Linked DNA regions of Homo sapiens: region 1 is reported to be linked to region 2. Evidence: microRNA targets listed by miRTarBase, many of them from high-throughput screens and not tested one by one. Region 2 holds a microRNA gene; the other region holds the end of a gene's coding sequence.
What was found. The annotated mature microRNA hsa-miR-5189-3p reads UGCCAACCGUCAGAGCCCAGA and lies in region 2 at 2,250-2,270, opposite strand. An mRNA with a match to its seed (bases 2 to 7 or 8) in the 3' UTR can be bound and repressed. Matches are read on the target gene's strand: a 7mer-m8 pairs with bases 2 to 8, a 7mer-A1 pairs with bases 2 to 7 and ends in A, and an 8mer does both.

Region 1 (5,058 bases), not on the chromosome of region 2:
AATAAAGTTGACAGCTTTCATGTCCTTAAGATTTTTTTTAAAGTGCCTGTGAAGCATAAAGGAGAACATTGCTAATAATCCAGTAGAAAATAGACAAAGGACATGAGTAGAAAGATAATTCACAAATGAATAGCCATAATAATAATAATAAGAGAAAATCTTCTACCTCACTTGCAATTAATAAATGCAAATTAAAACAGTAAAATATTAGATTTAAAAAAGTTAAATGTAATATGTTTCTTTGTAATAGACTCACAAGGCAATGTCAATTGGAAGACAAGGTCGAGTACAAGTTGAAGATATCGTCTTCTTGATTCGAAAGGACCCAAGGAAGTTTGCCAGGGTTAAAGACTTGCTTACTATGAATGAAGAATTGAAACGAGCTAGAAAAGCATTTGATGAAGCAAATTATGGATCTTGACACTTTTTGTAGTTTCCGAAAATTACCATCTGGGGAAACCATATATAATAATTGTATATTTTCTAAAGTAAGATTCTGATATCTAGCCATGTAAATGAAAGATGGAGAAACACAAAGTTTTCAGCCTTTATTTTTATGCCTTTGATTTTAGGGTGATATTGGTGCATGTAATTGCCTGCCTTTATATTACCATACTTGAATTACTTACTGGGTTTTAATGACCACACATAAGTCAAAGTACCTTGCAAACCATGCCGTTGTTCTGACTTTTGACTATTTAAAGGATAAAGTAGTATTTAATGTGTTAGGTATGTTTATGCCCTTGTAAGCTATACTGTAGCTTTTTTTTTTTTTTTTTTTTTTTTTGAGATGGAGTCTCACTATGTTGGCAGGCTGGAGTGCAGTGGCGTGATCTTGGCTCACTGCAGGCTCCACCTCCCGGGTTCAAGTGATTCTCCTTCCTCAGCCTCTCGAGTAGCTGGGAAGTACAGGCGCCTGCCACCACGCCTGGCTAACTTTTTGTATTTTTAATAGTGACGGGGTTTCACCATGGTAGCCAGGATGGTTTTGATCTCTTGACCTCGTGATCCACCTGCCTCGGCCTCCCAAAGTGCTGGGATTACAGGTGTGAGCCACCGCGCCTGGCCTACTATAGCTGTTTAATATGTGAAATCTAAATGGCATTTTTGACTTGACAGCTCAGACTTGTACTTCATGTATTCAGAAGTTTTTAGACAACAATTAGTTTATTGTCTAGTTCATTATTAAAGATAATGAACTAGGCCGGGCGTGGTGGCTCACACCTGTAATCCCAGCACTTTGGGAGGCTGAGGCGGGCAGATCACTTGAGGCCAGGAGTTCCAGACCAGCCTGGCCAACATGGCAAAACCTCACCTCTACTAAAAATTAAAAAATTAGCCAGGCATGGAGGCATGTGCCTGTAATCCCAGCTACTTGGGAGGCTGAGGCAGAAGAATTGCTTGAACCCAGGAGGCAGAGATTGCAGTGAGCCGAGATGGCGCCACTGCACTCCAGCCTGGGCAATAGAGTGTGACTCTCAAAAAAACAAAGATAATGAACTGGTTTGCATTTCTTTTAAAGAGATGATAGAGGAAAATATAGTTTTTTGTAAGAATGTTTATCTCTCTTAAAAGATAATCTTTTAATTTTCTTCAGATAACAAGTTATTATTATTTTTTAAGAAAGCAAGTTTCACGGGCCGGGCGCGGTGGCTCACGCCTGTAATCCCAGCACTTTGGGAGGCCAAGGCGGGCGGATCACGAGGTCAGGAGATCGAAACCATCCTGGCTAACACGGTGAAACCCCGTCTCTACTAAAAATACAAAAAATTAGCCGGGCGCGGTGGCAGGCGCCTGTAGTCCCAGCTACTTGGGAGGCTGAGGCAGGAGAATGGCGTAAACCTGGGAGGCGGAGCTTGCAGTGAGCCGAGATCGCACCACTGCACTCCAGCCTGGGCGACAGAGCGAGACTCCGTCTCAAAAAAAAAAAAAAGAAAGCAAGTTTCACATGAATAATGCTGTGTTGGAAGGCTTTTTGATTTAAAATCTTTTCGGATTTATAACATCCTGTTAAGTTTTAGGAGAACCCGTTTTCCCAGAGCAGATTCAAGCTTCTAAAAATAAATGCTTTCAGTAGCAGGAATGGCATTGTTTAAAAAGCTGATGGCAGGGTAAGCATTTGGGTTAGTGTTTTATTAACATATTTGTAAGTACTTGTTCATTGTGGAAATGTGTCCTTGACTAAAACCATACGTGGCTATGGAAACCATGTTTGTAGTTCTGAATACACAGGTTTTGTGTGTATTTACTCTATGTATTAAATTATTATTGCCCTTAGTTTAAAGTAAGGATTACAATTGGATTTAAGTAGATCACTGAATGTTATTGTTTATGAAACTTAACTTTTTGTATGCTGCTTATAAACATGATCTATAAATCAGTGCTTGGGAAAATTTTACTTTCTTAATCTACTGATACAGGAATAAAATATGAACAATTAAACAGGTTGATCCTTGAATCTGACTGATTTGTGACTTTTTTTCCTCCCAGAATATTATGCCCATTACTGGTAATATGATAATTCTTGCTGCTTAGTCTAGCTGAAAATTTTTTTTATTTCAGTGAGTATCTGGGTGAATCTTTTCATTTAAAAAAGCAGGACTGGGCCGGGCGCGGTGGCTCAAGCCTGTAATCCCAGCACTTTGGGAGGCCGAGGCAGGTGGATCATGAGGTCAGGAGATCGAGACCATCCTGGCTAACACGGTGAAACCCCATCTCTACTAAAAAATACAAAAAAACTTAGCCGGGTGTGGTGGCGGGCGCCTGTAGTCCCAGCTACTCGGGAGGCTGAGGCAGGAGAATGGCGTGAACCCGGGAGGCGGAGCTTGCAGTGAGCCAAGATCACGCCACTGCACTTCAGCCTGGGGGACAGAGCGAGACCCCGTATCAAAAAAAAAAAAAAAAAAAAAAAGCAGGACTGGGCACCATGGCCCATGCCTATAATCCCAGCACTTTGGGAGGCCTAGGCAGGAGGATCTCTTGAGCCCAGGAGTTGGAGACCAGTCTGGGCAACATAGAGAGACCCCATCTCAACTAAAAATCAAGGCCAGGCACAGTGCCTCACACTTGTAATCCCAGCACTTTGGGAGGCCAAGGCAGGTGGATCACTTGAGGTCAGGAGTTCCAGACCAGCCTGGCCAACATGGTGAAACCCTGTCTCTACTAAAAATACAAAAAAATTAGCCGGGCGTGGTGGCATGCCTGTAGTCCCAGCTGCTTGGGAGGCTGAGGCGAGAGGATTGCTTGAGCCCAGGAGTTGGAGACCAGCCTAGGCAAGCCCCATCTCTGTAAAAAAAAAAAAAGAGCCAGGCACAGTGGTTTCCGCTTGTGGTCCTAGCTACTCAGGAGGTGAGGTGGGAGAATCACTTGAGCCTGAGAGGTCAAGGCTTCAGTAAACTGCTCACTCTGTCACCCAGGCTGGAGTGCAGTGGCACAATCACTGCTCACTGCCTCGACCTCCTGTGCTCAAATAATCCTCCCACCTCAGCCTCCCGAGTAGCTGGGACTACAGGCATGCCTGGCTAGAGAACCTATTTCACTGTGTTGCCCAGACTGAGTGGGGCTTTGCGTTGACTATTTTAGGTTGCAAGTGATATAACTTAACTCAATACTATTAATAGCATAAACAAGGAATTTATTGGCTTACCTAACCGACACATGGGAAAGGGGATGGAGCTGAATTTAGGGTTGACTGGATCTAAGTACTTGAGAAGCAAGACTGTCTCTCTGTCTTTTATCCTAATTTTGGTTTTATTCTAAGAGTGGCAAATGAACATGATGGCCAGCAGTTCTGGGGTTCCCTCCTTACAACTCCAAATTGAAGAAGCTGCTTTACTTCGTAATAGAGAAAATTCCAAGCAAGGATTATGAGGATCCGAGCTCTGCTTATTTTCTTCCTGGACCAGTCACTATGGCCAGGAAGAAGTTGTACTATAGCCCGGATCTCTTGCCCCACTTCTGGTAAAAAAGAGCTTGGAATGGGATTGGGATACTAGATACTGCTATTAGCAAAAAGGGGAAAGAGGCTCGGCGGGCTGACTTGATGCCTGAGCTTACTTATTAACTTCAAATTCTGGTAGTAAGGTGGCATGGCTGTCTTCCAGTATTTAGAGCTGCACTGTGTAAATGGTAGCCACTAGCCACATATGGCTGTTTACATTTTAAAATGAAAAATTCAGCTGGGTGCGGTAGCTCACGCCTGTAATCCCAGCTTTTTAGGAGGCCAAGACAGGCAGATCACTTGAGGTCAGAAGTTCAAGACCAGCCTGGCCAACATGATGAAACACCATCTCTACCAAAAATACAAAAATTAGCCGGGTGTGGTGGTACGTGCCTGTAATCCCAGCTACTCGGGTGGCTGAGGCAGGAGAATTGCTTGAACCCAGGAGGCAGAGGCTGCAGTGATCCGAGATCGTACCACTGCACTCCAGACTGGGCAACAGAGTGAGACTCTGTCTCAAAAAATAAAATATTTAAAAAATGATAATAAAATGAAAAATTCACTTCCTTAGTTGCGTTTGCTATATTTCAAGTGCTCAAAACCCTTATGGTAAGTGGGTACAGCATTGGACAGTGCTGATATGGAACACTGCCATCATCACAGAAAATTCTTTTGGACAGTGCTGATCTGGAGTATATATAGGTGCTCTCTCCTAAATTAATTCACTTTTTTTTAAACTTCCTATGGAAAATCTCAAGTATACACAATAATAGTGTAACTAGCCCCCAGCTTCAACAAGTAACCAACTTTTTGCCAATTTGTCCTATCCCCCTACCTTTAAATAATTTTCTTATTTTTAATTTTGGACCTTGGTTTTAGAACCCTTACCTTTTTTAAGGTAGGGGGGCAGTATTATTTTAAAGCAAATCTGGCTGGGTGCGATGGCTCATGCCTATATTCCCAAAACTTTGGGAGGCCAAGGCGAATGGATCACCTGAGGTCAGGAGTTCAAGACCAGCCTGGCCAACACAGTGAAACCCTGTCTCTAATAAAAATACAAAAATTAGATGGGCATAGTCGCGGGAGCCTGTAATCCCAACTATTCGAGAGTCAGGCAA
Region 2 (5,072 bases):
CTGGAGGGTCAGCTGGTTGGGAGCTCAGGGAGTCCGGCTCTTGTCTGAATTCTCAGTGCCCATCGCGGTCAGGGCGGAGTAAGTGGAGAGGAAAAGTCTGGTCTATCTATCATGGCTGCAGGGGAGCTGGGCTTTCCTCCTCCCGGCCCCCTCGCTCCTTCAGAAGGCAGCCTCTGGGCAGCCCAGTATGTAGTTGGCAAGGGCACACGGGGAAGGGAATGCCTGTCGCGGAGGCTGGACCCCACCGGGTGAGGTACTGGCATCTGAGCTGGGCCCTGGGTCAGTGCGTCACGCTGCGTCTCCCGCCCCTTCCTGGACGACCTCATCCCCTGCTCGGAGCTCCCACTGTGCGCTCGGCGAGGATGTGTTTCCCTATGCCACATCCTCACCTGTCACTCAGCGTCACCACCCGGCCCTCCACACCGTGCCACATCCTCACCTGTCACTCAGCGTCACCACCCGGCCCTCCACACCGTGCCACATCCTCACGTGTCACTCAGCGTCACCACCCGGCCCTCCACACCGTGCCACATCCTCACCTGTCACTCAGCGTCACCACCCGGCCCTCCACACCGTGCCACATCCTCACCTGTCACTCAGCGTCACCACCCGGCCCTCCACACCGTGCCACATCCTCACCTGTCACTCAGCGTCACCACCCGGCCCTCCACACCGTGCCACATCCTCACCTGTCACTCAGCGTCACCACCCGGCCCTCCACACCGTGCCACATCCTCACCTGTCACTGAGTGTCACCACCCGGCCCTCCACACCACCAGTCCCCCAACAACAGCCTCCCCAGTGGTTCTGCCACAGAGCACGTCAGACCCCTGTGTTCACTCTCCCTCGTTAGGCTGGGGTTCCATGAGGTCACCTGGGGTCCCTGGACCATGCCCAGCACACAGCAGGCACTCAGTACAGGTTTGGAGAGTACAGGGGACACCCGTGGGCATCCAGAGGCTGCCCGCCCCAACCCGTCCAGCAGCCCTGTCCCCAGGACAGGTGGGGTGGCCCTGACAGCAAGGACCCCGCAGGAGTGAGTCACAGCCCCAGCACAGGGACAAGGACCGTGGCTCTCCACAGGCGATGCTCCTACACGGGAGGGGCCTTTGCCCAGGACAATGCTGGCTCTGGAGGCCCTGGCTTTTTCTCCGTTTCCTTTTTCCTTCTGCTTGCTTTGCCTCTGGGGACACAGCCAGGCACAGGGAGCAGATCCAGAAATCAGCTGGGGAGTATTTATGGAGCACCTACTGTATGCCCCAAGCTGTCCTGGGAGAGGACAGAGCTGCCTGCATGTGTGGAGACCCCTCTGCAGACTGGGAGGGCTGCGTGGGGAGATCCTCTGGGCTGGGCACGCACCTCTGACCCTCACCACGTGAGAGGCACTGCACCCCACGTTAGGGGGTGGGGCCCTGGCCAAGGTGATGTCTGGTTCTGGTCGGACGGCCCCTCCCTACTTCCTCTCCTTAGATCTCAGCCCAGACTCTTTCTCTCCTCGCCCCGCCACTATTTTCCACTTACACATTTTTGACAAACACCCACACCTGTGGCTGATTTTCAGGTGCCGTGGGAGCTGACAGGGCCTCCAGCCAGGTCTCAGGCCGGCGGAGCCTGCCTCATCCTGGTCTTGCCAGCAAGACCCACTGTGCAGTGTGGGTGGATGCAGAACACAGGTGCATGCCCCCTAAGGTGTCCTAAGCCCCCTGTAGACATGGTCTCCTGGCACATGAATTTCTGACAATGGGAAATCTGGAAGACCCCAGGTTTCCAGGCTATGCCACAGCCACAGACAGGAGGACCCCCAGAGAACCTGCCACCTCAGCCTCATGGTGTGGAAGGGGAAACTGAGGCCCAGGCCGGCAAGGGGCTTGCTGAAGAGCCCAGAAACCATCCTGGGAGGCAGACCTACTAGACCGCCTTCCGGTTTTACAGATGGGGAGGCTGAGGGTGGGCAAAGGGGTTGGGACTGTCATTCATTAAGATGGTGCCACGTCCCTGGCCCGGCCGGCACTTCAGAAGCTTGGCAGAATGAGGTTCCGGATGGAAGTCAGCGCGGGGAGAGGGTGGAGCGGTGGGGGGCAGCCTGCAGGAGGGTCTGGAGTGGGCCCAGACATGGGGGTGGGAGGCTGGCTGGCCCCAGGGCCGTCCCTGCCGGGTTGTGAAACTCGCTGTTCCCATCTGGGAGTGGCTGCTGGCTGCACTCCTCTCGGGAACTCCTGGGTCCTGGTCCCCAACTGAGGCCACGTGGGTCTGGGCTCTGACGGTTGGCAGGTCATCCAGAGGCCAGCCTGTCCATCCGCCTGTGCCCAGACAGCGAGGCCCCTAAAAGGCGGGCCCTTCCAGAGCCGGTGGTGGTGGTGGCAGAGGTCTCCCGTCCTGGGGCAGGGTCCAGGATGGGAACTACTCCCCCAGGTCAAGGGCAGCCCCTGGAGGAGGCCCTGCCCCCACACAGCAGCTCAGCCAATCCCTGGGCCTCACCCCTGCTCATTTGCATACCCCATTTCCATTGGCTGCCAACAGGCTGGTTAGGACAGTGGTGCCCTGGCCATGGGGGTGGGGCTCTGGGGGGCGGGGCCCTGGGGGTATCAGATTCTGGGTGACTGGTCCCAGCCCCAAGTCTAGGGTCAGAAAGCTGCATGGGGCTGGTGGGGGGCTTCAGTTACAGTGCAGGCTCTCCCCTTTCCTCGAAGGCTCCCTGACATCCATTCAGGGATGACTCTGAGTGGGAAAGATACTGGTCCAAGGTCGTACAGCCAAGAGGCCGGCACAGCTGGGACCTGGCCCCAAGTCCCAACCCCTCTCCAAGGCCGGCCTCTTTTCTCCTGTGGGGGCCTGTTGAGAGCGACTTCTTATTTTTGGCTGCCTTGTTTCAGGGAGGGCTATTTGGGGGCTTTCTTTGCAAAATGATGATGATGATGACTTTCAGAGCACCCCGAGTGCTCAGCTCTCCCTCTAGATCTGGTGGCTCTGTGCGCCGCAGGCAGTGGGCTCGCGGGTGCGTCGGGACGGTGGGCTCGCGGGTGCTTGAGGGGCGGTGGGCTCGCGGGTGCTTGAGGGGCGGTGGGCTCGCGGGTGCGTCAGGGCCTGTGGGCTCGCGGGTGGGTCAGGGGCAGTGGGCTCGCGGGTGCGTGAGGGGCGGTGGGCTCGCAGGTGCGTCAGCGGCCGGTGGGCTCGCGGGTGGGTCGGGGCGGTGGGCTCGCGGGGGCGTGAGGGGCGGTGGGCTCGCGGGTGTGTGAGGGGCGGTGGGGGGCTCGCGGGTGTGCGGGTTGAGAGTGTGTTCTCACTTTTGTTCCTGGCATTAGGGTGGGGTGAGATAAGGGGAAGGGGGGCCGCTCAGCTCGAGCAAGCAGATAGATAACGGCGATAGCACCTCCTCCACCGCACAGCACGCATCGCCCTTTTTTATCAAGTTCTCTTTTCTTCTTTTTCGTTGTAGGGTGGTAGAGTAGAAAACACCCCACCCCCACCTCCCAAAGCCATGGAACTAGGGGGTGGGGGCCTCCCCATCTCAGGTCCCAGCCACAAAGGGCACGGGTCAGCTTAGGGCCCGCTGTGCCCAACACGCCCAGCAGCCAGCCCAGAGCCCGTGACTGGAGGAGGGAGGGGATCCAAGGCAGCTGCGAGGCCCGGGGTCCGGAGGTCCCAGCATGACAGGAGCAGCTGCGCATGTGCCCTGCAAGGCAGGTCTCGCGGTCTACACCATCAGCTCCTTGAAAGGACTCTGAGAGGGCGACTGGCACCCCATTTTATAGGAAAAGGCAGCAAAGCCCAGAGAAGTGAAGTGTCACTGGGGCGGGTGCTGAGCTCCTTCCTCGAGAAGCCCTGGGTGGGCACCGCTGGGAGGGGTGGGGAGACCTCAGGGGGGTTGGCCATGGCCTGCAGGGCAGGCTTAGCGGTGTCGGCCCTATTTGACAGATGAGGAAACTGAGACCTGAGACTCTGGGATGTGTGTGAGAACCAGGGCCATGGGGACAGATGCTGTACCCCCTGCTTGTTTGCTGCGGCTCCTGGTCTGGGTGACTGTGGCAACTATGGGGGACTGACAAGGGGTAGACTCTTGGATCACAGGGACAAATGTTCTGGAGCCACTCTGGCCGCTGTGTGATGGGACGAGGCCCTAGGTGACATCACTGAGGTCATCGGCACACTGTAGCCGTTGGCGGAAAACCGTGCAGGAAGAATGCCAGTAGGATTCAGGGAGGGTGGGCTGCGGGCAGAGAGGGCTTTGGAGAGGTGGCCCCACCCCAGGGACCCTCGCCCCGGCTCGTGTCCCCCCATTAATACCACCGCCGTTTTGGGGTTCACTGAGCCCTGCCGCACAAGGGCCCCAGATGCTTTACCCACTTCTGCCCTAATTCCTCAAAGGCCAAGGAGGCTGGAACTGTGATCATGCCCATGATACAAGTGAGGAAACTGAGAGGCTGCCGGCCAGGGGGCAGGATTTAAACGCTGGTCACTGGAGCTGACATTTACCCCCCTCCCCCACATACACACCCCACTGCACTGGAAATAGCTGACTTCCTTTTAGAATATTGAAACAAAACCAAACCCAAAAGTTAGAAAGAAACCAACTTTCTCACCAAAGGAGCTTATTTTCTGGGGACAGATGAAATGAACCCAAGAAACAAGAATAGAGGCAGGCCAGCCTCCGCCCATCCCCTCCCACTGCCAGGATGGGCTGTGCGGCCCTCAGCCGTCCCCTGCCCTTTCTGTGCTTGGCCTTTCTCCCTGAAAGGTACGGGTGAGCCCCCTGGGAGGCTCGTGGGCTGCCCCCCACTGCAAACACCCCAGAACCTCCAGCCAGGATGGAGACTCTGACCTCGGCTAGACTCTAAGCCAGAAGCCAGGGTCCCTTCTGTTCTCTTCATGCTGTGTGATCTTGGGTGAGTTACTCAACCTCGCTGAGCCTTCAGTTCTCTGAGGAGAATGAGGTCATAGGCGCCCCTCCCAGGGCTGCAGAGTACTCCATGCCAGAACTGCCGGGGCTGGGTAACGGAGCTGTTGTCTAACCACGGCCGCCATCAGGATCACTACAACTGGGGGTCCCAGAACCACCCAGAAATGTCACCATC

Region 1: miRTarBase lists TAF13 as a target of hsa-miR-5189-3p. The part of its 3' UTR that is shown has no 7-base or 8-base seed match.

The regions. Positions count from the first base shown.
Region 1 is chr1:109,059,886-109,064,943 of GRCh38, reverse strand. It overlaps TAF13 (TATA-box binding protein associated factor 13), which reads left to right. Exons shown (of 4, transcript NM_005645.4): 4 at 251-804. The coding sequence ends at 421. Among named protein-coding and RNA genes, the nearest start is that of TAF13, 14 kb to the left of the region's middle.
Region 2 is chr16:88,466,182-88,471,253 of GRCh38, reverse strand. It overlaps MIR5189 (microRNA 5189), which reads right to left and starts at 2,336; the gene lies at 2,223-2,336. The region is part of intron 1 of ZFPM1 (zinc finger protein, FOG family member 1); the gene reads right to left.